4 linked regions of the Homo sapiens genome follow. The protein of the gene in region 1 purifies or fractionates together with the protein of each later gene. This does not show direct contact. Each region holds a gene or a part of one and is shown in the gene's direction. Other genes may lie near its edges.

Evidence for each region.
Region 2: the proteins of GNS (region 1) and ENGASE purify together in Homo sapiens (affinity purification with mass spectrometry; 2 studies listed by BioGRID and IntAct, with this or other methods). This does not show direct contact.
Region 3: the proteins of GNS (region 1) and SUMF1 purify together in Homo sapiens (affinity purification with mass spectrometry; 2 studies listed by BioGRID and IntAct, with this or other methods). This does not show direct contact.
Region 4: the proteins of GNS (region 1) and CLPX purify together in Homo sapiens (affinity purification with mass spectrometry; 2 studies listed by BioGRID and IntAct, with this or other methods). This does not show direct contact.

What each region holds. Positions count from the first base shown.
Region 1 is NC_000012.12:64,756,391-64,763,651, reverse strand, and holds the start of GNS (N-acetylglucosamine-6-sulfatase precursor), read left to right. Parts: upstream 1-4,245; 5' UTR 4,246-4,375; coding exon 4,376-4,567; intron 4,568-7,261. UniProt on the Homo sapiens protein: Hydrolyzes 6-sulfate groups in N-acetyl-d-glucosaminide units of heparin sulfate and keratan sulfate.
Region 2 is NC_000017.11:79,070,119-79,077,827, forward strand, and holds the start of ENGASE (cytosolic endo-beta-N-acetylglucosaminidase), read left to right. Parts: upstream 1-4,705; 5' UTR 4,706-4,826; coding exon 4,827-4,972; intron 4,973-7,311; coding exon 7,312-7,379; intron 7,380-7,544; coding exon 7,545-7,709. UniProt on the Homo sapiens protein: Endoglycosidase that releases N-glycans from glycoproteins by cleaving the beta-1,4-glycosidic bond in the N,N'-diacetylchitobiose core. Involved in the processing of free oligosaccharides in the cytosol.
Region 3 is NC_000003.12:4,457,265-4,464,287, reverse strand, and holds part of SUMF1 (formylglycine-generating enzyme isoform 1 precursor), read left to right. Parts: intron 1-7,023.
Region 4 is NC_000015.10:65,182,320-65,189,401, reverse strand, and holds the start of CLPX (ATP-dependent clpX-like chaperone, mitochondrial precursor), read left to right. Parts: upstream 1-4,059; 5' UTR 4,060-4,248; coding exon 4,249-4,327; intron 4,328-7,082. UniProt on the Homo sapiens protein: ATP-dependent chaperone that functions as an unfoldase.

The sequences.
Region 1 (7,261 bases):
GGTGACAGAGCAAGACTCTGTCTCAAAAAAAAAAAAAAAAATTAATAGGATACAAAACCAAAGTGATAAAGATGAATGAGAAAGTAAAGAGAAATTATCCTGACATTAAGAAGTAAAGAGTAACCAAAAAAAGTTTAAATCATAAGAAAAACAGTAATTCATTAAGAGGAAGAGAATAATCATTTCACACTCTATACGTATATGAAAACATCATGTTGTACACCTTAAATACACATAATTTTGTTGTCAATTATATCTCAATAAAGCTGGAAAGAGGAAGAGATAAACTGCAAATGAAAGTAATAAATAGGCTATTAAATTGACAACTTGTGAATTATATAAACTCATTGAAAAATATTCAAATTTCTTTCGATTTGATCTCACACTAGCATTGAGGAAGATAACATAAAACTCACGCCTATAATCCCAGCACTTTGGGAGGCTGAGGCGGGTAGATCACCTGAAGTCAGGAGTTCGAGACCAGCCTGGCCAACATGGCGAAACCCCATCTCTACTAAAAATACAAAAATTAGCCGGGCATAGTGACGCATGCCTGTAATCCCAGCTACTCAGGAGGCTGAGGCAGGAGAATTGCTTGAACCTGGGACGTGGAGGTTGCAGTGAGCCAAGAGCGCAGACAGATCAAGACTCCATCTCAAAAAATAAAATAATACAAAATAAAATGCAGAATGTCACGAAATGCCTATGTTAAGAGGATATTTGATAGAGTTTTCTGAAATTTGACAAAAATACTAAACATATATATAAAACCAATAATGAACTGAGGTGAAAAATAATTTTTCTGAATTATCACCAATAAAAGGCAAATACTGATCAAACACACTAGAGAAAAAACTAAATTATCTTTCTATTTTCTTTAGAAAATATTATAAACTAACATCATATGAAGAGATGATTAAAGAGCACATAGCCATATAATGTAAGGGGAAAAAAGTATGAAGAAGTATGCCTGGCAGTTACTTAATAAAAATATGTTACGTTAAATTTTTGCATTATTTGTAATATTTTTCAACTTTTAAAAATTTATAACGTTATATTTTGTTTTAGTCTAAATACATATTCAGTTGTGTACCTACTTTTGTATCTAAAATTGTTATTCTTTTTCTTAAGGAGCCTCCACTCGCCAAATGCACATAAACTTCAGGCCCCACAAAATTTGAATCTGTCCCTGTTATCCACTTTTCTCTCTACCTAATTGGTCTACCCTCACCCATGCTTGTCCTCTTCCAATCTGTTCTTCATGCCACAGTCTAAAGGATCTTCTAAAAGTTCATGTATGATTATATTTATCTTACATTCTTTCAGTAATTTCCAATTAGCCTTACTATAAAAACCCAAGTCCTTAAAATAGGATCTGGGTCCTCACCACCTCTCTCCCTCTGCTCTAACCACACTGGCTTCTTTTAGTTATTGCAATGCACCAGCTCAGAACCTTTGCATATGCTGTACTCTGTGCTTAGGAGACATTCCACCACCCCAATACTCCATTAACAAATTATCTCCTACTCAAACTTCAGATTTCACTCAAAGATCACTTCCTCAGGGCACCTTAGACTAAATCAGCCTCCCACCACCTTAAATGCTCATTGCACCCTTTACTTTTCCTTCATAGCATGTCTATTTGTAATCATATACAAGATACAAGATTAGATTGTCCATCTCTCTGCCATTAGACTGCAAATTCCATGAACGAGGGACAATGTCTCTTCAGCACTAGTGTAGCAGTGTTACCGGAAAGGGGTCCTGATCCAGACATCAAGAAAGGGTTCTTGGATCTCGAGCAAGGAAGAATTCAGGACAAGACCATAGAGTAAAGTGAAAGAAAGTTTATTAAGAAAGTAGAGGAATAAAAGAATGGCTACTCCATAGGCAGAGCAGCCCGAGGGCTACTCGTTGCCCATTTTTATGGTTATTTCTTGATGATATGCTAAACAAGGGATGGATTATTCATGCCTCCCCTTTTTAGACCAGAGAGGGTACCTTCCTGACATTCCCATGGCGTTTGTAAACTGTCATGGCGCTGGGTGGGAATTTAGCAGTGAGGACGACCAGAGGTCACTTTCATCACCATCTTGGTTTTGGTGGGTTTTAGTCGGCTTCTTTACTGCTACCTGTTTCATCAGTAAGGTCTTTATGACATGCATCTTGTATCTTGTATCTTTATGACCTCCTATCTCATCCTGTGACTTAGAATGCATAACCATCTGGGAATGCAGCATAGCAGGCCTCAGGCTTATTTTACTCAGCCCCTTTTCAAGATGGAGTTGCTCTGGTTCAATCGCCTCTGACAGCAGCATCCTGAACAAAGTGGGCAACTAATTACACAATTTCTGGCCTCAAATAGTTTATAATCTAACCTTGAAAAAAATAGAAAAGAAACAATTTTACAATTTGGGGCTTCGATACAGATGAAATAGGTTATTTTTTTGTGCAAGAAAGTCTTCCTGGAAGTCTTGAAACCTGAATACAGAAGGATTAGTTATTCTAACCAGCTTGAAAAATTGGCCTAGGCCAAGGCTGTAACCAAGTATTCTGGTTGTCTAGGAACTGCTCTGACCACACTTCCGGCATAATTGTTTCTTGCAGAAAAACTACTTCAGTTTTTTTAAAGCTTCTTTTGCCTTCTGTAGGCTTACTTAAAAAAAAAAAGTATTAAGATCCTTTTGTGGTTCATAAGCCTGATGATTGGGTTTTCATGCTATTGTGTGAGTTACCACCCCTACCTCAAACCTTGTTAGGACTCCGCGCATTACCCCTCTGTGTGAAAAAAACAAAGTAATAAAGGTAATTTTTTTTTTTTTGCATAAGCCCTATCCTTGTACACATCAGGTTTCAACGTGTTTCCATCATTATTTTTACCTTATAGTATAGTGTTTTCACGAGTTTTTTTTTTTAATACTTTAAGTTCTGGAATAGTTTTCACGAGTTTTAAGAGACTCTTCTTGGCAAACAGTTCAACTCAGAGAAAATACTTTTACCAGCAAGGAGGTATACCTTGTTATATCGGTCTGGGGATGTGACTTGACAGTTCACCTTGCCAGGAATATCTCTGTGATTTTTTGTTTGTTTGTTTGTTTTGAGACAAGAGTCTCGCTCTGTCCCTGAGGCCAGAGTGCAGTGGCTCACTGCAAGCTCCGCCTCCCGGGTTCAAGCGATTCTCATGCCTCAGCCTCCCGAGTAGCTGGGATTACAGGCGCCTGCCACCACGCCCAGCTAATTTTTGTATTTTAGTAGAGACGGGGTTTCCCCACGTTGGCCAGGCTGGTCTAAAACTCCTGACCTCAGGTGATCCACCCGCCTCCCAAAGTGCTGGGATTACAAGCGTGAGCCACCGCGCCCACGGTGGGCGGTGAGAGGAGAGGGGCAAAGTCTAATTATTCCAGAGCGACCACAGAAATATCTGGAGCTAGTTTCAAGGGCTATTCCCCGCTAAAGATTACTTAATAATGCAGTTGGATGACCACGTTTCAAGATTTTTGTTCGATCTGCACATCCTCCAACATGTTCCAAGAGGGTGTTTAAAAAGTCACCAAGGACCATTAGGATAACCATTAGGATAAAGCTGTCAGGACATCCCTAAATTGTTTGAAACTACGATGTCTGCTGAGGAAAGAAGAACATAATTAGGCTTTGGAGTTAAGAGAGCTAACCAGTTCCGAATTTAATGTCTGAGCCAAATGAGAATGTTAAGATTTATCTCACAAGTTGTAGAGAAAATTAAAAACGATTAAACATCCGGGCCTTGAATAAGTGCCCGTCGACTTGGGGATTAAATATGGTAGAGTCCACTTTCCTCACCAGCTGATGATAATTTCTGTTATGTACAGTCCTCCTTTCTCTTCCTTTATCGGTTGGTTAGTATTTGCCAACTCTTTCCTGCTTTTCATCTTCTCTTCCCCCCATTTAAATCTTTCCACCAAGCGCTCAGAAACACGTACGTCCTACCAGAACGCAACCCGAGCCTGCGCGAGAGGTACGTACAGGTCTTGACCTTTTCCCGGTTCTCCGCCCTTTTCCCGGTTCTCCGCCCTTTTCTCCGGTTCTCCGCCCTTTTCTCCGGTTCTCCGCCCTTTTCTCCGGTTCTCCGCCCCTTTTCCGCCACTGCCTGATGCCTCCCTCCAGGCTGCGCCAGTCCGCAGCCCCGCCCACGCCGGCCGTCACGTGACCGCGCAGCGTGCTCCGCCCCCTGTCCCTGGCTCACGTGATCGCGCCTAGGGAGAAAACGTCTGACTCCAGCCACCGGCCTTCAAGGCACGGCTTTTTATTCCTTCGGCTGGTCGGCCTCTCGCCCTTCAGCTACCTGTGCGTCCCTCCGTCCCGTCCCGTCCCGGGGTCACCCCGGAGCCTGTCCGCTATGCGGCTCCTGCCTCTAGCCCCAGGTCGGCTCCGGCGGGGCAGCCCCCGCCACCTGCCCTCCTGCAGCCCAGCGCTGCTACTGCTGGTGCTGGGCGGCTGCCTGGGGGTCTTCGGGGTGGCTGCGGGAACCCGGAGGCCCAACGTGGTGCTGCTCCTCACGGACGACCAGGACGAAGTGCTCGGCGGCATGGTAACTCTTCTGTTTCTGCCCCGCCCCTCTATCTCTTGGGCTGACTACCCGGTTTGTTGCTCTCTTTCCCGGTCCCCACCACCCTCCTCCCCGAACTGGCTGTCTTATCCTTGGGTAGGTTTGGTTTTCCCACCTGAGGCCCTTTATGCCGGTGTAAGGGACTGCAATACTCTTTTCCTTTCTGGATTGAGGCACATGCGTACAGCACACAGAGCTTCTAGTCTGGACCGTACTGCTGTGGAGTTTACGTTAATATCTCAAGATAAACATGTGGAGACCAGTGGAGGATGGGTTGAACCAATGAGGATCAGGTGCTGTCTAAGAGCACTCAAGGCCTGATTGTTTTTCTTTTGGATTAGAGGATCACAGACAAGTCCAGTCCCCTTTATGAGGGACCTAGACCACCTCCACGTTTGTGCCTGTATACAATGTCTGTATCTGATGTCAATAAAAATAAGCCTGGGCCGGGCGCGGTGTGTCACTCATGTAATCCCAGCACTTTGGGAGGCCGAGGCGGGCGGATCAGAAGGTCAAGAGATCGAGACCATCCTGGCCAACATGGTGAAACCCCGTCTCTACTAGAAATACAATAATTCTAGCTGGGCGTGGTGGCGCGCAGCTGTAGTCCCAGCTACTTGGGAGGCTGAGGAAGGAGAATCGCTTGAACCCGGGAGGCAGCAGTTGCAGTGAGCCGAGATCGCGCCACTGCATTCCAGCCTGGCGACAGAGCGAGACTCCGTCTCCAAAAAAAAAAAAAAAAAAAAAAAAAAAAAAAGGCCTGAAGTGAACTAATCTGGTAGGCCGACCGTCGAACTATTGAGGGTGTGTGTTGCCTCACAAGAATCAAGAAAATTCAATTAGTGTGATTGAACACCTGACTGTTGCATTAGAGACTGTCAGTGTTTCATTTTCTATCTAATGGGTGTTGTCACAAGACTTCATTTTTTTTCCAGAGTAAATTTTGCTTGTGTATTGCAGAATTATGGAATGTGTGACCTTTGGAAACATCCACTCCAACCCCTTCCCCATGGAGGCCCAGAAAGCAACTTGCCCAAGACATGAGTAGTTGAGGCAGAGTCCTCTGACCCTGGGTTCAGCATTCCTCTCTTCGCTTTAAAACCAAATGCTTTATTGCTTTCTTCGTTTCAGTTCTCTTTTTGCTTTCAGCTGAATGCTGAGACTATGAAATACTCCAGGCAAGACGTTCCTAACTTTTCTTGTGTAGTTACACACCCTAGCTCAGTGTCCTTCAAACCTCTGGTCCCAACCCTTGAGTGAGTTATGAAATCAGTTTAGTGAGTAACTACCAACATTTTTTATTTCCTCTGGAATAGAATAGAATAGAAAAGGTCCATGTGTGTGAGTGTGTGTGTTACACTTGATAAAGGTAATCATTATCTATCTCTCTTTCTTCCCGAGTTGTAAAATATATTTCTTAGGTTGATGCTCAAGAGCTTGAGAGTCTTTTATAGCTGATGTTTTAAGAGGCTTGCATTTTGACTACACATTTCTTCCTGCCATATATGCTTCATTGTCTGTTAGTTTCTACCAAGCCATGTTGACATTGGTCTTAATTTAATTTTCCTCCTACACTTTAGGTTCACTACTCTTCCAACTACTGCACTTACTTGTCTGCTCACAAAATTCCTTTTTTATTAAAAAAAAGAAAATGTGTCCTTGAAGAGTGTTTTGTCCAGAAAAAGCAAGCCTTCTCTAGCAGTGACTTAAGTACTCAGTTAAAAGGTCAGGCTTTTTTAGGTGTTGAAAACAAAATTGATTACTTAAATATAAGGTATTCAGAGTTGTTTCTTCAATTCTTATAAACCACAGCTGTAGTCTGTGTGTATTTGAGGTCTCTTTAGTATGTTAATCCAATTTGCTTCGTTAAGCCAGTAGCAGATTTTTTGAGTCAGGGTCTTGCTCTGTCATCCAGGCTGGAGTGCAGTGGTACAATCAAGGCTCATTGCAGCCTTGAACTCCTAGTCTCAAGCAGTCCTCCTGCCTCAGTCTCCCTAGTAGCTGGAACTACAGGCACATGTCACTACGTCCAGCTAATTTTTAAATATTTTGTAAAGACAGGATTTCTCCATGTTGCCCAAGTCGGTCTTGAACTCCTGGACTCAAGTAACTCTTGAACTCCTGAACTCTTGAACTCCTGGACCTCAGCCTCCCAAAGTGCTGGGATTACAGGCATGAGCCACTGTCTCGGCCCAGATTCTTTTTTTTAATAAGTGTTTCTACTGGAGAGAGGTACCAAAATTGAGTGGAGGGCATAAGTCAAACTTAATGTTCCAAACTCAAGAATTCTGGCTTCTCTTCTAGGCTTTTTCAGAATATTCTACCACTAATTGTCAAACAGGACTCCAAGGGGAAGAGCTAGGACAAGAGCATTTGAGAACTTACTTGGAGCCGAGCAGAGTATGAGGATTTTTATACTTGTGCTTCAGTCATCACAGGAGTCCTCTGCTGTACATAGTATCCTTATCTTAAAAGGAAACTAAAACTGGAAGGTGGTTAAGTGACATGACTAAGTTCATATAGCTAATATTGGACAAAGCCTGGGTATCTTATGACCTCAGATCACCATGCTTTTTCTCCTATTCTAGAATACTGTGATAATAATCAGATTTCATTCCACATACCCACACCAGCATAATCACACCATAGGTCAGAGAGTCTGCAGGTGACATTCGG
Region 2 (7,709 bases), on another chromosome or scaffold:
GTGTGTCAAAAGACAAAATTATAACACATTTAGTTATAAATCTAATTGGCTTTTATTTGAGATTCATGAATCGGGGCAGCTTCCCTTCTACAACATGGAGTAAGAGCTTCCATTGGCCAACGGCAGACAGCGGCTTTTGTGAGATGGGAACAAGGAAACGGAACCACGGGAAAAACGTCAATTGGTCACCATCGTGTTACCTCCTTTGGTAAAGGTTAAAGCAGAGGGGACTTCCTTATCACACTGACTTAAGTAGACTGGAATCTCCTGTTTTCAGGAAAAACTTGTCTGTTTGGGATCTATCTGCTTCCTTAAGGGTTCGGTTTGATGATATGTGGCGTTTAGCATGAGTGACTCCATCTTGCTTTGCTGTGGTCTGTTGGAGCCTAGTGTAGGAGCTCAGTCCAAAATAATGGGTTCCCATAATTTTTGTTTAACAAACACTTGTGCAATTGCAATAATAACACAAGGGAAAATGGGCAGGGCAGGCATCCCAGGTAGTGTCAATGTATTGTTGAGGAGTGAGTGTGTGTTCACAGACAGAGGCGTGCAGGCAGGCAGGACTTTCGAGCAGGTACCTGGGTGCAGCCTCCAGTGGGTATAAAGGTGAGTCGGGGGGCTGGAGCCAGAGGCCAGCCATAGCCACAGCTTTCTTTCATTCATTAAGCCTTTACTGAGTACCAAGGAGAAAGGGAGTGACAGTTGAAAAGTTATTCTTACTCTTTCTTCCTTTTTTTTTTTTTTTTTTTTTTGAGACAGGGTCTCAATCTGTTGCCCGGGATGGAGGTGCAGTGGCACAATCATGGTTCACTGCAGCCTCGACTCCCGGGGCTCAAGTGATCCTCCTACCTCAGCCTCCTGAGTAGCTGGGAGTACAGGCGCATGCCACCACCTGGCTAATTTTTTGTTTGTTTGTTTGAGATGGACTCTTGCTGTGTTGTCAGGCTGGAGTGCAGTGGCATGATCGTGGCTCACTGCAACCTCTGCCTCTCAGGTTCAAGCGATTCCCCTGCCTCAGTCTCCCAAGTAGCTGGGACTACAGGTGCATGCCACCATGCCCGGCTAATTTTTTGTATTTCAGTAGAGACTGGGTTTCACCATGTTTGGCCAGAATGGTCTCGATCTCCTGACCTCAAGTGATCTGCCCACCTCTACCTCCCAAAGTGCTAGGATTACAGGCATGAGCCACCGTGCCTGGCCCAGGCTAATTTTTCATATTTTTTTGGAGAGATGGGGTTTCTCCATGTTGCCCAGGCTGGTTTCCAAGCCTGCTCAAGCAATCAGTCCTCCTGCCTTGGCCTCCCAAAGTGATGAGATTACAGGCGTGAGCCACTGCGTCCAGCCTTGAAAGTTTTACATTGTGCTTTTTGTTTTTCCTCCAGCTGGTCTGAGACATGTATCTGAATGAAGGGACAGTGAGATTTATTGCAGAAGGAATGCAGTGACAACGAACAAGGTAAGAAGATTTTGAATGACAAAAAAAGATACCAGCCTTGCAAGCAGGCTGCTGTTTTGAGAGGTTTGTCTAAATTCCAGGATTTATCCCACTCATCTTAGTTAGATTTAGCTACTGTAAAAACACCAACAGAGTATTGGCTTAAATAAGACAGAAGGGTATTTCTGTCATTTAAGAGTCTGGGCTGGCCGGGAGCAGTGGCTCATGCCTGCAATTCCAGCATTTTGGGAGGCTGAGGTGGGCAGATCAGCCTGATGACAGAGCAAGACTCCATCTCAAAGAAAAAAAAAAAAAATTAGCCTGGCGTGGTGGTGGGCGCCTGTACTCCCAGCTATTCAGGAGACTGAGGTGGGAGTTCGAGACTAGCCTGGCCAACATGGTGAAACCCTGTCTCCACCGAAAATACAAAAAATTACCAGGCGTGATGGTGGGCGCCTGTAATCCCAGCTACTTGGGAGGCTGAGGCAGGAGAATCGCTTGAACCCGGGAGCTGGAGGTTGCAGTTAGTGTGCGGAGATCACGCCACTGAGCTCCAGCCTGGATGAGAGTGAGACTCTGTCTCAAAAAAAAAAAAAGTCCAGACATAAGCAGTCCAGGGCAACACTAGTCTTGCTGTTGGGGACCTAGGCCCCTCCCAGCCCTTCCACAAGTGGCTTTCATCTCATGGTCTCAGATGGTTGCTGCAGTTCCTGCCATCACATCCTTGCACCCAGCTGGCGACCAAGAGAAGCCAGGAAGGAAAGGTGGAGGGCAATGCCCCCTTTGTTTTGCAGGCACAACCAGAATTGCACTTCTCACTTTGTTTCTTGTTTCATAAACCACAGCTTACTTGTAAGTAAGTACACGTGGAAGGTCTAAGTTCTGCCTCTGGGGAATGCTGTCTTCATCTGGGCTACCATGTAGTCAGCAAAAACGTGGGGCTTCCGTTCCTAAAGGACAGGCTCGGAAGGAATATTGGGGACAATTAGTTCCTGCCACACTCTTCAGCATATCAGCAACCAAGCCCGGGGACCAGGTGGTGTCCACTCACCTGATTCTCATTTCCGGCTCCCCCGGAGGCCATGAAGGAGGAGGCAGAGGAAGGCAGAGCAAGCAGGTGTGACTCTAGGTCCCCACTCCGGGCGCTCTGGGCATGGCGAGGGGGGGTGCAGAGGCAAGTGCATGCACTGCGTCACGACCTGCAACAGGAAGCTGATGGGACAGCATGGTCAGGCAGGGAGACCCGAGGCTCAGCTGTCCCAAACCAACCAGTACTGGTGTGGGCAGAGCCCAGGACAGCCAAGAGCCTGCAGGGAGGTGTCAGAGGGGCCCCTGTAACAGGGCAGGGTGGCTCTGCCGAGGCTGTAGTTCAGATTCACAGGTAGGGATGCCAGATTTAGCAAATGCATAGACAGCATCCTAGTTCAGTTTGAATTTTAGATAAATATGCAATAACTTTTTAATATAAGCTTGTCCTATGTCCCAGGCATCATTTATTTGGAATTCAAATTTAACTGATTGCTCTGTATGTTATCTGAAAACACCAGAAGGTTAGGGTTTTAGAGGGCCCACTCAGGCCTCAAACGGATCCAGAGCCCCAGTATGAGCCAATGTGAGCTCAAGGCAGACAGGGCCCCTCCAGGCTTGGCCTGACATCCAGAGAGACCACGAGCCACAGGGGCTAACAAGAGGCCACAAGGCCTAAGTCCTTTCTGTCCTCAGGGGCGTGCAAGGCTGCCTTCACTTTCTTGCTCTTCTAGACCAGGTGCCTACTCTTTGGAAAGGAGAGAAGAAAAGGGAGGTTTGGGCATATTTTCTCCCAGAGACTGAGCATTACCCAAAGGCTGTTCAAAGTATCCCTTAGAACTGTGTTCTAACCTGGGTAGGATGAAAGTTTATCTATTTTTATTGCTAAGCTGCAGGTGAGGGCTTGGGAACACCTGGTTACATGCACCCCAGATCAAGACTGTCCACGTCCGGTGCACCCCTGAACACAGCAGGAGGGAACTTGGGGATCCACTGCCCTCGCTCACTGTAAGCTTCCCAGGACTGAAGCCCCAAAGAGGAGCCCTCTGCCTTCTCTGTCCTCCCCATGGGTCAGCGTGTCCTGCTTCTGAGTGGCCCGTCCTTCCTGCCTAACTGGCTGGCCTGCACCATGGCCCATATTCAACAACCTTAGTCATAGTTCCCACCATTGGCGTTTATGGAAGCTTGGAGCCTCATAAAGTTCAAAGTCTGCAACAATAATAAAGGCCCAGTCAACTTGGCTTGGGCGGCAGCTGCAGCCCAGCACTGGAAGCTCCTAGCTGTGGAGGGGCGTTGGGGCCTGGAGGGAGGAGAGCCTTGGTTTGCCCTGTGGGGCCCAGCCTTGAGTTCTGGCTTCTCAGGGCTCTGTTCTATCATGTTTCCTGTGAACTCCTTTTGTGCCTAAGACGCTGGGCAGTGCCACTCTTGCAGAGGTGCCACTCCAGGCCCTGCACGCTTAGGGGTAGAGCAACTACTACTGTTGGGCACAGGCGTGGGGCTGTAGAAAGAAATCCGTGTTTCACTGGAAAACTATGCATCCTACATAGGACACCAGCTTCCACATGGCCCGATACTAACCTACTAACCTTTCATCTTTTTTTTTTTTTTTTTGAGACGGAGTCTCCCTCTGTCGCCCAGGCTGGAGTGCAATGGCACCGTCTCGGCTCATTGCAGCCTCTGCCTCCCGGGTTCCAGCGATTCTCCAGTCTCAGCCTCTCAGGTAGCTGGGATTACAGGCATGCACCACCACGCCCGGCTAATTTTTGTATTTTAAGTAGAGACGGGGTTTCACCATGTTGGCCAGGGTAGTCTCGAACTCCTGACTTCAGGTGATCCGCCCGCCTCGGCCTCCCAAAGTGCTGGAATCGCAGACGTGAGTCACCGCGCCCGGTCTGAAAATTATCTTTTAATAGGGGTTAGCTGCATGAGTTAAAATCTCATTGCCACCATTTGCTGACTTTGTGCCCTCTGGGAGATTGCTTAATCTCTCTGGGATAAACCTCGGTTTGCTTGACAAAGGAAGCTGGTGAGGCTAAAGAGAGAACTCTAAGATTGGGGCGTTCCGAAGCCTTCTAGAGCCTTCTAGCACCCTGGACTCATAGCCAATGATGGGCAACAACAAGAACGACGACGAACCCTGGGCTCGGAACTCGCCCAGGCCCCGCCCCTCACAGCCCCGCCCCGTCCTCGGCCCCGCCCCCGGCCTGTCGCCTCAACAAAGTCCCCGCCGCGCGGCCGCTGGCCGGGAGTCAGCTCGGAGTCCCGTCCCAGCGCGGCGTCAGCGCTGCGCACTTCCCATTGGCCGAGCGCGGCGCGGGGGCGGGCCCGGGCCTGCGATTGCCTCTCGGCGTGCGCGGACAGTGTCATGGAGGCCGCGGCGGTGACGGTCACCCGGTCGGCTACACGGCGGCGGCGGCGGCAGCTGCAGGGGCTGGCGGCCCCGGAGGCGGGGACGCAGGAGGAGCAGGAGGATCAGGAGCCGCGGCCGCGGCGGCGGCGGCCGGGAAGGAGGTGGGGCTGCGGGGCCCGCGTGAACCCCGATCCGCGGGGCTGAGAGTCCGTGGCCCCGGGGCCCGAGGTTTCCCGGCACGGGCGCGCCGAGGGGCGGGGGGCCGGCGCCTGTGTCCGCTCCGTGCACAGTAAGGGACAGAGGGTGGCAGCGCCCCTCCGCCCCGGTCCGCCCCGCCGTCCTCGCGCCACTGCCGGGCAGCGGCCTCCGGCCCCCGTGCGTGACCCCTGCCTATCTCAGAAATACGGGTGCAAACCCGAGTGGCCGCGGGGCCCAGCGGGAATCCCGACGCCCCGGCCAGACCCCTGCTTCCCACGTCGCTGGTCTATGCGGAAGATCCCGGCGGCGGTGCTCATGCCTGGCTCAGTGGATGCCGGCTGGTGGAAGGGGTGGCCTTCTGTAGGGGTGACACTAGAACTGAGTCTTTGGGGAGGAGGAAGCCTTCAGTAGGTGGAGAATAGGGAGTAGGGTATCCAACTGGCGGGGAACAGAAAGGGCCAAAGCACAGAGACAGAAAGGGACGAACATGCCCCTCTGGGCTGGGCTTCCTTCCTTTGGGGGGCACTTGCCCACCCGGTAAACTCCCCCTCAGTAGGTTGCAGGGGGAGAAGTTAGGAGCACAGACATGGCTTCCGGAAACAGCAGCCGTAGCTTTGTTTCTAAACCCAAAGCAGTGAGACTGCTGAGCATTTCAGACCTCATGAAGATGGGATGAAGGCTGGCTGCTGGGAAAGATATTTTTGGACAGGAGGAATGTGGAGATGGCTCTTTCCCTCCTAGTGGAGGAATGACAGGTGACAAAGGTGACCTGGTGTGGGATTGTTCTGAGAAGGTCTGGGAGGGGGTGGCTGAAGTATAATAAGGACATCAACGAGGAAGGGGGCTTTGGAAAAGGAAGGTGGAGAGGAACAACTGCGGCATCTCTGCTTGAATCCGTCCCCGACCCCTGCAGTTCTCAGGGTCTCCCAATGTCATTCTGGAGGCCCTGGGTCAGTGTTTGGTGATGGCAGATGCTACAGAGGACTCTTTGCAACAGGCCTCTGAATGGCAGTGGAGTGATGGCAGATGACAACTCAGTGAACAAAGAAGTGGCCTTGGGCGTTGGTAGATTTAGGGAATCTCAACGTTGGTGCCATGGCCTCTAAATAGCCACTGCGGTGTCTTCTTACTGCTCCTAAAATAATAATGATTTTTTAGGCCAGGCATGGTGGCTTATGCCTGTAATCTCAGCACTTGGGAGGCTGAGGCGTGTGATCACCTGAGTTCGGGAGTTTGAGACCAGCCTGGCCAACATGGTGAAACTCAGTCTCTACTAAAAGTACAAAATTAGTCAGGCGTGGTGGCAGATGCCTGTAATCCCAGCTACTTGGGAGGCTGAGGCAGGAGACTCACTTGAACCCAGGAACTGGAGGTTGCAGTGAGCTGAGATTTCACCACCTTACTCCAGCCTGGGCGACAGAGCGAGACTCTGTCTCAATTAATCAATCAATTTTTAAAAGAAAGTGGTTTGAGATGTATTTAGGAGCTTTCCATGTTAATGTACCGAAGGAACGAAGGAACTCTTTCTCCCTGTAACATACATCCATGAACAGCGCGGAAGGCACTTAGGGAAGTGTGGCCTATAGAGGAAGCCTGGTCTCTGCTCTCTTAGGACCTGAAACTTTCTGGTGCTTTGGGTATTTGGATATTGCCCCTTGGCCATAGAAAATCCTGGGGACCCTGTGAAGTATTTATGTCTGGTCTTTGTGGTATTGGGGTGGCTGCTTTAGAGGGTAAGGTTTATTCTATTTATTTATTTTTTTGAGATGGAGTCTCGTTCTGTTGCCCAAGTTGGAGTGTAGTGGCACAGTCCCGGCTCACTGCAACCTTCGCCTCCCAGGTTCAAGTGATTCTCCCTGCCTCAGCCTCCCAAGGTGCTGGGATTACAGGCGTGTGCCACCATGCCCAGCTAATTTTTGTATTAGTAGAGATGGGGTTTTGCCATGTTGGCCAGGCTGGTCTTTAACTCCTGACCTCAGGTGATTCGCCTGCCTTGGCTTCCCAAAGTGTTGGGATTACAGGCGTGAACCACTGCGTCTGGCCTAGGGTAAGGTTTATTCTTAGGAGTAATCATTGGTACGTGTGTCCATGTGGAAGCCAAGCCCTGGTTGCTAATATAGGTAAAACCTTAGGATTATCACAGGGCACTTCCTTGCTTTATACAATGTTTCTATAGTTAATATTAAACAACATAAGGCAGAGAATATCTCTCTGTGTTTAGATGAAACTGGTCCATTTGCTTCTAAGTGTTCTTACCTATTTATGTTTTTATTTATAAATGTACAACTCCCTCTTTGCTTAGCATCAAAGATGAAGAAGAAGAGACAGTCTTTCGAGAGGTGGTCAGTTTTTCCCCGGACCCCCTGCCAGGTGAGGAGACAGAGGCTCTGAATACCGATCCACCTTCACACCTGGGGCTTTGGGGCAGGTCAGCCCCTGCCCCCTCTCATGTTCCTTCTCTGTTATTGTTAAAATGTTTCGATTAATCCTATAATAGTTTCCATTAATTGCTCAATGTTTCTGTCCTCGGACCAGTTAGATATTATGACAAGGACACCACCAAACCAATCAGCTTTTACTTGTCTTCGCTGGAGGAGCTCTTGGCGTGGAAGCCCCGCTTGGAGGATGGCTTTAATGTGGCCCTGGAGCCCCTGGCGTGTCGCCAGCCCCCTCTGAGCAGCCAGAGGCCCCGGACTTTGT
Region 3 (7,023 bases), on another chromosome or scaffold:
AAAAAAAAAAAGGCCACATTTGAGCTAGGCCTTGGAGGAAATATTTTTCGGAGCTGGGAATGGAATTCCAGATTCAAGGACATTCCAAGAAGGAGAATAGTATCAACACATGGCACATTGTGGAAATGCGTGGTGTGTGCTGGGAAACATAAGTGATTTAAGATCTGGGAGTGACATGTTCACACTTTTTAATGTAACACTTTTTAGATGAGTCTTTTTTTGTTTTTGTGTATTCATACAATGAGTGTGTGTGGCAAGGTGAGGGGCACAGAGAAATAACACTGGGCTTTGCCCTCAAGAAATTTTCAGTTTCACTAGAAAGTTATGGCGATTAGAATTGTCTGGGAAACAATATAGATGTTTAAAAATTTAATGTGTATTCCCTCTGGTTATAAAAATATGATTCTCATTGAGAAAATTATCCTAATAGTTTTCTGCGTGGGTTATGATTTTGTAACAAGGAAGCAAAATGTTTTAGTCTGCTTTTATCTTTTAGAAGAGTTATTTGAAAGGCATTTAGGATCATGGGATGCTAAGATTGTAGGTGGCATGTCTGTACATATGGATAAAGTCAGTCTTGATTTCCTGTCTGAGGAGGTTTCTGACTGGTAATGCTTCCCTGGGCAATGAGGCACAATCGAATGCCGTCTCTTCCATGAAACCTTTCCACCTCCTACAAAGAAGTAGTTTTTCTATCCTCTCAGTTCCCATAGCTTATTTTGTTGTTGTTTGATGACAACTTGTATATTTTCTTCAATATGGTGCTAGTGTTTTTTTGTTTTGTTTTGTTTTGTTTTTGAGACGGAGTCTCGCTCTGTCACCCAGGCTGGAGTGCAGTGGTGCAATCTCGGCTCATTGCAACCTCTGCCTACTGGGTTCAAATGATTCTCCTGCCTCAGCCTCCCAAGTAGCTGGGACTACAGGCACCTGCCACCACGCCTGGCCAATTTTTGTATTTTTAGTAGAGACGGGGTTTTACCACGTTGGCCAGGATTGTCTCGATCTTTTGACTTCGTGATCCACCTGCCTCTGCCTCCCAAAGTGCTGGGATTACAGGCGTGAGCCACCGCGCCCAGCCCTAATGTAGTGCTAGTTTTGTAGTTGTCTGATATTCTACATTGGAAGCATTTTTAGATGTTTTAATCTCTATATCCCCCACGTGCCTTATACATTTTAGGCATTCTGTAATAATTTCTTGAATGACCTGTGTTTCCTTTTTTGGTGGATACAGTATTGAGAAACTGCCTTGGGAATAGAGAAGGTCACATACTTTTTCAAGAAACATTTGTAAAGTATTCTTTTGCTGTATTCATCCTCCTAAGAATCCTGTGAGAGAGATCATCTCCCACTTTACAGATGAGGCAACTGAGGCTTAAAGGAATCATATAGCTCAGAACTGCAAGAAACTTTGAATGTCATTTCATCTATGATTAGTGTCTGTCTGTAGAGGCAGGAGGGTGACAGAATGGTATAGATAAATAAGCCCTGTATAGATAGATAAGGCAGGAGTTTGTGGACAGATCCAGAGAGCATGCTTCTCTTATTCACCCAGCTTTCTCATGAACCTTTAGCTTATTTTATTTTATTTTTTATTAGAGGGGACTCAGAACAAGAGCCTTTAGCTTTTAATGTTAAGGTTGAGGAGAGGAAAGAAGGAAAAGGAGAAGTTACACAAAAAAGTTACGTATGAGCTGATTCTATTTTTGTGTACAAGACAAAAATCTTACGGTAGCAAGTGAAAAAAAGACAAGACTGGCTTAAGCAGGAAAAAACTGGAAGGGACATTTATAGCTCCCCTAGTTGGGAAGTTCAAGAGTAAATATGGCCCCAGACACACCTGGATACAGGGCCTCAGGCAGCATCTCCAAGGCCTTTCTCTTTGGCTATCTCTTGGCTCTTCTGCATAGTCGGCTCCATTGTCAGGTAATGTCCCTTCTCCTACTGATAAGATAACTAGAAGAGAAAAAGTTCTTTCCTGGTAGCTCCAGCAAAAGTTCAAAGATGAACTTTGATTGGGTCTTGGGCCTATCCCTAATTACATCTCCGTGGTCAAAAGAATGCTATGGTTGGCCAGGCTTGGTGGGGGTTGGGAAGTAGGATAGAGTCATCCAGTACCCCTGGGCCACTTAGAAAGCTTAAGAAATGGTTTTGGAAAGGAACTTCAGTATTTTACAAGAAGTAGAGGGATTGGGTGCCGGATGGACCAAAATAGCAGTGCCCACTGCACATGGCCTAAGTGTGTAGCCCACATATGGTTCTGTTATTCCAATGAATAATAGAGTCATTCTTTACTTCACTTATGCTTCTGGCTTGAGTGGCAGTGGCAGAAGCTGTGGTGTGGCAGGGAAGGGGTTATCTCACCTTCAGATTGGAGGAGATATGGATTGTTTGAATTTGAACCTTCAGTGAAGAGTTGACTAAAATGGTCCTTTTTATGTGGCTTTGGATCCTACAGAGTGAGACACTTGGTTCTCTGGTTTTCACTTGAATGACATTTGACATTTGTAGGACAGAAAACTTTATTTCATTAGTATAAATGAGAAATTATGATCCACTCAGAGTGATCCAGGCTATTTTTATCTATAGTCTCCAGAATGGAAACTTGGCTTATTCAGCACTGGCTATCTCTGATGGTTAATGAAAGAAGGAAAAAAAAAAAACTCGGCCGGAAGTTCACATGGAAGTCATGATTGCATTAGCATTGTTGGTACTCACCTTGAGGGAGAAGAAGATGAGAAAAGTTAGATAATTGTAAAAGTTCATTAGGTACAATGGGCACAGCTTCCTGTGGTCCTTTGAGCTGAGGGATGAGCAACTGTTCTCCTAACAGGAAGTATTTGCCACAGGAAAGCTTTTTCTTTAAGTCTTTTATGAAATCTCTTATTAGAGCCTCTTAATCATTTTAAGACTGCTCTTGAAACTTTTGTCTGATGTCTTCAATTTTTCTACTTCTTTGTAGAGCTGCTTAAAATGTTGATTTCTCCTTTTAGGACTGGGTTATCTTGTGTCCCAGCACTTAGAGTATAGTGAGAATAATGGACAACCTAGTTCGGTCCTTGACCTACATCTGTTAGACAGGTTTCACTGTGATGTTGACATGTTATGCATGTCTAGAACTGTTATAAATTAAATAGCATTTTTATAATTATGCATAATTCAAATGATAAATTCCTCATTACAGTCATGACCTCATTCAATTGGTAAAGATTTTTGTGTCTGCTGTGGACCATGCACCATGCTAGGCAGTGGGGATATAGAAATAAAAGATTCATTTCTGGTCCTCAAAGAGCCTAGGTTCTAGGGAAGATGAAAACACAGAATTAAGATACTTTGGGTGGGATGCGGTGGCTCATGCCTGTAAGCCCAGCACTTTGGGAGGCTGAAGCAGGAGTATCACTTGAACTCAGAAGTTGGAGACTAGCCTGGGCAACATAACAAGACCTCGTGTCTACTAAAAAAAAAAATTAGCAGGGTGTGTTGGTGTTCACCTGTAGTGCCAGCTGCGTAGAGGCTGAGGTGGGAGAGTTGCTTGAGACCAGACGATCAAGGGTGCTGTGAGCTGTGATCACGCCTCTGCACTCCAGCGTGGGGTGACAGAGTGGGACTCCATCTCTTAAAAAATATATATATATATATATGTATATATATACACACACACACTCTCACACACACACACACACACACACACTGTGTGTGTGAGGGCACATGAGCTAGAGGGATATGCAGGCAGGAAAGGCCTCCTGGAGGAGCTGATCCTTGAACCATGACAATATTTACCAAGAGACAAAGTGGTTTATGGAAATGCGGGTGAAAGACAGGGCAAGAGAGAGTGTGAGAGATGAGCTCTGATGTTTATATATGTTATTCTGAAAGGCGATAGGAATTCCTGACAGTTTTAAGTAGGAAAGTAGTATGGTCAGATTGACACTTTATTTTTTAAAACAGGTAGTATATTTACGTGGTTTAAAAATTTAAAAACATATAGAAGAGTATATAGTGAACAATTTCTCATTTACCCAGTAACTTTCCCCTCAGACAACCACTGCATGCATTTCTTATATATTTCCTCAGAGCTATGTTCTGCAAATATAAGTAAATACAAAAATAGTGTACCTGTATCCCTCAACCTACTTTCACGCTAATGACAGCATACCATACTTAGCATTTGTGCACCTTGCTTTGTTCTTGTAGCTCATCATGGTGAGATCTTTCCATATCAATATATCAAAAGCATCCTTTTTTATCCCCCTCTTCTTTTTTCTTTCCTATGGCTGCTTAATTTTCCATTTTATTGAAGGCCCACAATTTACTTAAAATGAGCCTGCTATTGATGGACATTTAGATTGTTTCCAGCCCTTTTCAGTTGGAAAATTGCATTGGGTACAGTAGACTAACATTTTCAGAAGGATTAGTAGGGGCTTAAATATTTGTTGAATGAATTATTGAATGGAAGATAGATGACTTGGAAGCAGGTGGGGATGTGAAAGGAGACTGAAGACAGGAACACCAATTACAAGGGTTCTGCAGTTATCTGGGGGTAGAAAAGAGGGAGAGATTAGAGAGATACATATTTAGGAAATCTAGTGAGACTAGGTGGCCTGTGTAATATTGGGAGTAGGGGATGTGAGTAGTCAAGGTTGATTTCTTGGGATAGTAGTAATACATTAGACAAATAAAAACACATTTATTACTAATTTATCATAAATGAAAACAGCACCATTTTTATTGGGAAGTACACGCATAGAATCAAAGCAGCCACCAGCAAGGAAAGCCAGTAGAAATGGAAAGTAGAATCAATGACTGTGGATTCCTAATTTCTGTTTCTTCTGATGTTATTTTTCTAATGCTTCTGCCCGTATTGCTAAGTGACTCTCTTTTTTTCCAACTAGTCCATCTCTCCTTGACTTCTTTTTTTTCCCCTTTCTAATTTGAGCCCTTGTTTTTTAAAATTTTATTTTTAATTGACAAATAATTTTATAATAATTTGTGGGGTACAACGTGATGTTTTGATATATGTTTACATTGTGGAATGAGTAAATCAAGCTAATTAACAAATCCATCAGCTCACATACTTATATTTTTTGTGTGGTGGAAACATTTAAAATCTATTTTTTAATAATTGCGAAATATATAATGCATTACTTATTATAGTCACCACTCTGTGCAATACATCACTAAAGCTAATTTCTTCTATCTAACTGAAATTTTGTACCGTCTGATCAACATCTTTCCTTTCCCCATCTTCCCCTCTCCCCCAGCCTCTGATAACCACCATTCTACTTCAATTAGTTCAACTTTTTTAGATTTCACATATGAGTGAGATCATCAAGGCATTTGTCATTTTGTGCTTGGCTCATTTCACATAGCATACTGTCCACTAGGTTCATCCATGCTGTCATAAATGACAGAGTTTTCTTCTTTTTTTTTCTCTTGAGACGGAATCTAGCTCTGTTGCCCAGGCTGGAGTGCAGTGGCTCCATCTCGGCTCGCTGCAAGCTCCGCCTCCCAGGTTCACGCCATTCTCCTGCCTCAGCCTCCGGAGTAGCTGGGACTACAGGCGCCCGCCACCAACGCCTGGCTAAGTTTTTGTATTTTTAGTGGAGACGGGATTTCACCGTGTTAGCCAGGATGGTCTTGATCTCCTGACCTCATGATCCCCTTGCCTCGGCCTCCCAAAGTGCTGGGATTACAGGCGTGAGCCTCCGCACCTGGCCGAGTTTTCTTTTTAAGGCTAAAAAGTATTCTGACATTTATATATATATGTATATATAAACATTTTCTTTATCCATTTATATGATAAGGGACATCTAGGTTGCTTCTGTATCTTAGCTATTGTGAATAATGCTGCCATGAATTTGGGAGTGTAGATATTTTTTCAGCATACTGGTTTTATTTCCTTTGGCCATATACCCAGAAGTGGGATAGCTGGATCATATGGTAATTCTGTTTGCAGATTTCTGAGGAACCTCCATATTGTTTTCCATAATCACTGTATTAATTTACATTCTCACCAACTGCAGTAGAGTTCCTTTTTCTCTACATCTTCTCCAACACTTGTTATCTTTCATCTTTTTGATGATAGCTATTCTAACAGGTGTGAGGAGATAGCCCATTGTGGTTTTAATTTGCATTTTCCTGGTAATTAGTTGTGAAGAGCATTTTTTCTTATATCTGTTGGCCATTTGTATGTCTTTTGAGCAATGTCTATTCGGGTCCTTTGCCCATTTTTAAATTGAGTTCTTTGTTTTCTTGCTATTGATTTGAATTCCTTATATATTTTGAATATTAACTCCATATAAGATGCATGGTTTGCAAAGATTTTCACTCATTCTGGGATATCTCTTCACTCTGTTGTTTCCTTTGCCATACAGAAGCCTTTTGGTTTGATACAATCCTATTTGTTTATTTTTGCTTTTGTTGCCTGTGCTTTTGGGGTCAAGTCCAAGAAATCTTTGCCAGGCCTGTGTCATGGAGCTTCTTTTCCCAATGTTTTCTTCTAGTAGTTTTACAGTTTCAGACTGTACATTTAAGTCTTTAATACAGTTTGAGTTGATTTTTGTATATGCTGTGAGATAAGGGTCTAATTTCATTCTTCTACATGTGGATATTCAGTTTTCCTAATACCGTTTATTGAAAGATTGTCCTTTCTCCATTGTGTGTTCTTGGTGCCTTTGTTGAAAATCAGATGATGGTAAATGCATGAGTTTATTTCTGGACTCTCTATCCTGTTCCATTGGTTTTTGTGTTAGCTTTTATGCCAGTACCATGCCATTTGATTAGGTTTGTAGTATATTTTGAAGTCAGATAGTGTGGTACTCCACCTTTGTTCTTTTTGCTCAAAATTGCTTTCGCTCTTTGGGGTCTTTTGTTGTGCTGTACAAATTTTAGGATTTTTTTTTCTATTTCCTTGAAAAATGACATTAGAATTTTGATAGGAATTACATTTGATAGGAATTACATTTGATAGAAATTACATTGAATCCTGGCCTGGGATTAATTTCTTAATATCTTTTTCAGATAGTT
Region 4 (7,082 bases), on another chromosome or scaffold:
GAAAGTTCCACTGGATTAATTTTAAGAATGCCCCCAAAGGATTCAGAGGGAAGGGTGGTAAGTTAGCACCATCTGCTGACCATCTCCCTGAACATCAGGATGAGGAACAAGAGGCAGTCTAATTGAGGACAAGGGGGATCTCATGCTATCTAAGGTTACCTCCAGCCCCCAAGGGCAGGCCCAGGAAAATGATGAGCGCCTCGCTGTAGTCCTCTTGGTCACCCTACAATACCAAGGTTGGGCAGTGACTCCCTGAGGAAGAAAGTAGTAGCAGTTGGAAGGAGCCTAAAAGAGACCTTGAGAAAAAAAGGTCCAGACTTCTATCAGCACAGTGGAAACATATCATTTCTGCAAATAAATCTTAGCATCTCCTGATTCTAGCATCCAGCAATAAAAACAGATTCCTGAGCCCTCCTCCAGACTATTTTGTCAAAATCTTTAGGAGAGGGGCCTAATGTATTTTAACAAACAACCAAAGTAATTCTTTTTTTTTTTTTTTTTTTGAGCCAGAGTCTCACTTTGCTGCCCAGGCTGGAGTGCAGTGGCATGATCTCGGCTCACTGCAACCTCCGCTTCCCAGGTTCAAGCGATTTTCCTGCCTCAGCTTCCTGAGTAGCTGGGACTACAGGCACACATCACTGTGCCCAGCTAATTTTTGTATTTTTAGAGACGGGGTTCACCAGGTTGGCCAGGCTGGTCTTGAACTCCTGACCTCGTGATCCGCCAGCCTCAGCCTCCAAAGTGCTGGGACTACAGGCCTGAGCCACCGCGCCCGGCTACAACCAAAGTAATTCTTAAGTAAAGGAAAGATGGTGGGTCACTTCCTTAATAGGAGGGCAGATTTTTATTCCTTGATGTGAGATGTTCCTGGGTAGGGGGTAGAGATTCTGCAGACCCCTAAAATCTCATCAGCTTTTGGAATAAGATATAGAGAAGTAATGGAAACCCATATGGTGATTTGGATTTAAGTCTGGGTTCTGCTGTGACCTTGGGCAAGTCACTTAAACTCTCTGTGTCTTGATTTTCTCAGCTTCAAAACTGGAATGCTGATAATAACAATATATCATTTGGTTGTTGTAATAATCAAATGAGAAAGTGGATGTGAAAACCCTTTGTAAGTTATAAAGTTCAATACGATGTGTTAATATTATCTTGAGTTCGCACCACCTACAGATGCAGGTCCTTATCTTTTAAAATACTGAGTTCCTCAATATTTATATTTATATCCTTCCAGGGATAATCAATGTCTGCTGATATGAAGGAGCAGGGTTTGGCCATGAAAAAAAAAGTCTTTATTCAGAGGATACAAAGATTCCCAAAAGAATGATGACTCTCTGAGAAGATGTGCCAGAATTTCTGGTGGAGGAGAGGAGAAGCGAGATTTTTTGTTGTTGTTGTTGAGATGGAGACTTGCTTTGTCACCCAGGCTGGAGTGCATTGTCACGATCTCAGCTCACTGCAACCTCTGCCTCCCAGGTTCAAGCGATTCTCCTGCCTTAGCCTCCCGAGTAGCTGGGATCACAGGCGTGCGCCACCACACCCGGCTAATTTTTGTATTTTTAGTAGAGACGGGGTTTCACCATGTTGGCCAGGCCAGTCTGGAACTCCTGACCTCAGGTGATCCACCTGCCTTGGCCTCCCAAAGTGCTGGGATTACAGGCGTGAGAAACTGCGCCTGGCCGAGAAGTGAGATTTTTATGTTTATCGAAAAGAGTCTTGGGTTAAAAAAGAAAAGCTTGAGAAATACAGTTTTAAAGCCAGAAGACTCCAGCTCTATTCTCTGTTTTTCACTTGTTATGTGACCCTGGTCAAGTATCTGCCTTTTCAATAGGCCTGTTTCCTCATCTAAAAAAATCAGGGTTAATATTGAGTGAGTTAAGACTCATGGACTCTAATTTATTAAAATATTTCTTATAGCAACTCATAATGCTGGGAGGTAAAATCAAGTATAAAAGAAAAAGAGGGCCTGCATGGTGGCTCACACCTGTAATCCCAACACTTTGGGAGGCCAAGGCAGGCGGATCATGAGGTCAATAGATCAAAACCATCCTGGCCAACATGGTGAAACCCCGTCTCTACTAAAAATACAAAAACTAGCTGGGCGTGGTGGTGTGCGCCTGTAGTCCCAGCTACTCAGGAGGCTGAGGTAGGAGAATCGCTTGAACCGAGGAGCCAGAGGTTACAGTGAGCCAGGATCGCACCACTGCGCTCCAGCCTGGCCACAGAGTGAGACTCCATCTCAAAAAAAAAAAAAAAAAAAAGACAAAAGAAAAAGTTTTACATAAAATGAAGACATAAAAAGTTATGTGCCTGACTGGGTGCAATGGCTCATGCCTGTAATCCCAGCACTTTGGGAGGCTGAGGCAGGCGGATCACTTGAGGTCAGGGGTTTGAAACTAACACGGCCAACATAGTGAAACTCTGCCTCTACTAAAAATACAAAAATTAACCGGGCATGGTGACGCATGCCTGTAATCCCAGCTACTCAGGAGGCTGAGGCAGGAGAATCACTTGAACCCAGGAGGCAGAGGTTGCAGTGAGCTGAGATGGTGCCACTGCACTTCAGCCTGGGTGACAGATGGAGACTCTGTCTCAAAAAAAAAGTTATGTGCCTTCAGCTATGTAGTTCGCAAAAAGTAAATAACTCAAGGAGTTAACTCCTCCAGTGTAAACTATTTGAGCTGGAAAACTGCACTTGACTTTCTTTTTAAAGCGTCATTAATCTGTCAGAAAACAGCTGAAAGTAGGTGTGATGTGGAAGGGCTGATGTGACCACAAGTATTTGCCATCACTTTCCTGGTGAAGGATCCATTTTCTCACAGGGATAATCTCAGATGGCTCTGGGTTTTTTTTTTTTTTTTTTGAGACGGAGTCTCGCTCTGTCGCCCAGGCTGGAGTGCAATGGCACGATATCGGCTCACTGCAACCTTCGCCTCCTGGGTTCAAGCAATTCTCCCACCTCAGCCTCCTGAGTAGCTGGGATTACAGGAGTACGCCACCACACCTACCTAATTTTTGTATTTTTAGTAGAGATGGGGTTTCACCATGTGGGTCAGGCTGGTCGCAAACTCCTGACCTCGTGATCCACCTGCCTCGGCCTCCCAAAGTGCTGGGATTACAGGTGTGAGCCACCACGCCCAGCCGGCTCTGTGCTTTTGAATTCATAACTTGAGAGGATGGCCTGATAGGAACCTGACCAGAGGTTATCTATGCAGTGCCATCCTTAATCACGGCCGGGTGCGGTGGCTCACGCCTGTAATCCCAGCACTTTGGGAGGGCGAGGCGAGAGGATCACTTGAGCCCAGGAGTTTGAGACCAGCCTGGGCAACATAGGGAGACCTCATCTTTACTAAATTAAAAAAAAGAAAGAAAGAAAAGAAAACCCTCAAGACTTTAAAGCACCCACGGACTAGCAACAGCTAGAAGCTTTATCACCACGAGGCCTGAAAGAACAAGGAGACGGAGCTGTTACCAACTAACAATTGCTGCTCAGGGAACTAACTGACAATACCAACTCCATGTTACAAGTGATGAAACTAAGGAGAATGAGAAGATAAGGAACACAGGATGTGGAATTCCGGGGGAAGAAATTTAGTGAATCTGAAGCATCCAGCGCCTACCAAGGCACTTTAGAGACTTCCCCCTGGAGGGTTAAGCCACCAGCCTCACCTTGACCTTCCCTGCCGCCCACTAAAAGTGACCGGAAGAGCTCGACTATGACGACTCGGGACTACAAGTCCCGGCATGCATCTCTCCGCGTCTATCGCAAAACCTTTCAACTTTAGGATAAAAGGGCTTTTGGCAACCTTGAGCGTCGGGACCTGTAGTCGCCCCAGTTGGGGCTAGACGCTTGCCGTAGGGAACTCATTGGCGCCCAGGGCACCACCCCCTCGCCTTCGCCTCACGTAGCTTCACCAGCTCGCAAACACGGCGCGTGCCCACGCCCTCCGCCCCCTCCCCGGGCCTAGGGCGCAGGCGCGCGCAAGCTCCCCGGGCCCAGTAGGCTGGGGGTGGGGGTAGAAGGAGAAGGAGGGGAAGGGAGGGGGGGGTTGGGTGTCTACTCTGGTGAATAGACGGCTGTGGGGCAGAGAAGCGTGAAGGCCTGGCTGCCGGGCAGGTGAACTCTCCACGGGGTCTAGGGCCCGCGAAAGGGTTCGGAACCGAGTCAGCGCGCCTTGCGGGCAGGATTCACGCCGCTGTGACCCGGAGGTCCTCAGGGGGCGAAGCCCCGGCCTAGGCCTCGCGGAGATGCCCAGCTGCGGTGCTTGTACTTGCGGCGCGGCGGCCGTCCGGCTCATCACCTCCTCACTCGCCTCCGCGCAGAGAGGTAACGAAATAGTGCCACTCCTGAGCCCTCAGCCTGTCGGGGGGGGGGTGGACTGGCCAATGGTTGGGGGCCCCGGGGAGGGCACGAGGCCTGCTGCACCCGGGGAGTGTGAGGGAATGCGCGGCGCTTCGCCCGGCACCCACCACTTTCCCCGTGGAATGGGGCTCTGCCAACCTCTGGAGCAGCCGTTGCTCAAATTGGAAGTAAACTCCTTCCCACGCGCCTGCCTGCACGCTTTCAGGCCTGCTGACTTTGGGGCCGGAATGCGGCCACTTTGTAGAAACCCTGAAAGGCACAAAATGCTCCTGTTATTAAAAAATGTCTCCAGATCCCACTCAGCCCTGCCGGGGACCGCCGCCTGCCATGGCTGCGGCTCTTCTTCCGCAGCCTGGCCGGGATCCCCCTCGGGCCCGTTGGGGGCTCCAGGAGGGGCTCGGCTGAGGATCTGTCCCTACTAGGGTCCCCCAGGACTCGGGGCACCCAGCTGGCCGTCCCGGACGCAAGCCGCGCGATACCCGAGATGTTACTATCACTGTGCGGCCCTGACACTGGGACATAAACAAGGTTCACAATACTTCCCGGCGTCAGGCAAGCCCCGGGGCCCGCAGGACAGCGGCGGGAGAGATGGGGAGAAGTCCCGCAGGAGTTGGTTCGGAAGTACTTGGGTGTTTCAGCAGTCCTTTGCTGGCTTTCCCAACTTGACCGGGAGGTAGTTTCCTAAGAGTGGCGCATGTTGTTTACCTTTTCTTTCTGTTTATCTGAAGCTGTGAAAGAATGGCGCCCCAGCCAAGAGAGTCTGGAAAATAAACTTTTTTTCTCTTCCTCAAATCTGTGGAAGTCAGACCACGAGGCTAGATCCTGTTATAATGACTGACTTCTAGACAAATTCGTTTTATTTTGGCTTATCGGTTTATGACCCTTGGATGGATTTTTAAAAAGGCCCCTTTTATCTAACTTCTAAGCCAATTATAAAATCCTTATTGTTTACTAAATATATCTTCCAGTTTCTTTACTACAGAAGGAAGGATTGAATGAGGTAACGTGGGCAGAAGCATTTTGTAAAATGATATATAAATGTAAGGGAGTAAATTTAATCCTAAATCGATGTTAAGCCTCAACCAGTAGATGTCCCGATTCCAGGAATTCGATTTGCAAACACTTTAAAGTGACATATTTTAATCCATTTATCTGATATATATTAATATTTGTCAAGGGTCCACTGTGTGTCAGGCCTTCTTTTAGTGCTGGAGGTAGAGTGGTGAATAAGTCCTCACCCTCATGTTTAAATCTAGTGGAGTAGACAAAGAATAATACAGTTTCCAGTGGGTGGATGAAGTATGTGTGTGTTCCCTTTGGTCAGGGACGGCTTCTTTGAAAGTGTTACTGATCTCTTGTAGCCAAGAGTCCGTGAACATTTTTGAATCATAGGAGATAGGCAGTTATTTTTTTTTCTTTTCAAAACGACTGTTTTCTTTCTTTTTCTTTTCTTTTCTCCTTCCTTCCTTCCTTCCTTTCCTTCCTTCCTGTCTTTCTTTCCTTTCTGTCTTTCTTTCCATCTACTATCTGTCTTTCTGTCTGTCTTATTTTCTTTCTTTTTTTTTTTTTTTTTTTTTTGAGACAGAGTCTCGCTCTGTCGCTCAGGCTGGAGTGCAGTGGCCAGATCTCAGTTTACTGCAAACTCCGCCTCCTGGGTTCACGCCATTCTCCTGCCTCAGCCTCCCGAGTAGCTGGGACTGCAGGCGCCCGCCACCACGCCTGGCTAATTTTTGTATTTTTAGTAGAGACGGGGTTTCACCGTGTTAGCCAGGATGGTCTCGATCTCCTGATCTTGTGATCCGTCCGCCTCGGCCTCCCAAAGTGCTGGGATTACAGGCGTGAGCCACCGCGCCTGGCCTCTTTTTGTGTGTCTGTCTTGATGGAATCTGCTAAGTTGCCCGGGCTGGAGTGCAGTAGCGCGATCTCGGCTCACTGCAACCTCCGTCTCCTGGGTTCAAGCAATTCTTCTGCCTCAGCCTCCTGAGTAAGCTGGGGTTACAGGCGCGCGCCACCACGCCCCACTAATTTTTATATTTTTAGTAGAGACGGGATTTTGCCATGTTCGTCAGGCTGGACTCCAACTCCTGGACCCCAGGAGATCACCCGCCTTGGCCTCCCAAAGTGCTAGGATTACAGGCTTGAGCCACCGCACCCGGACTAGTATTTCTTTTTAAAAACAGTTGTTCTGAAATTTAGAAAGCTTTGTCTGTATGATAAAGTTCTGTAAATAGTGAAACTTAAATTGTCTTTTCTGGTTGCTGCCAGGTAATCTGGTGAAATATACTTTACAGAAACACTTCTCTTTTTTGGCTTTCAGAGCTTCACCTGGGGTTTACAGGCCTCCAAAGGGTCCTTGAATAGAATTCAGAGATTCTGTGAACTTTATTTTCACTAAGCTCTAACTGAAACACAACGTTTCCTTGGCCTATGAATGTGGGCAACACATCCACAGTAGTCTTAGAAGTGTCTGTGGATTTGTCATCAATCAAAATCAGAAATATTTTCATATCACATTATAGTTGCTGATATTTCAGAATATTGTCCATACTTTTTGCTACTTTGAAATCATAGTAATTATTTAAAAAGCTGTTAGATCTTATTTAATTTTGCTTGTTAATAAAGAGGCATATTTTAAAAATTTTTTGATAACTACTTCATTATAATTTGTTTCCTTTGTTATGTATTTTATTTTATACATTTAAAAATATTATTCTGAGAA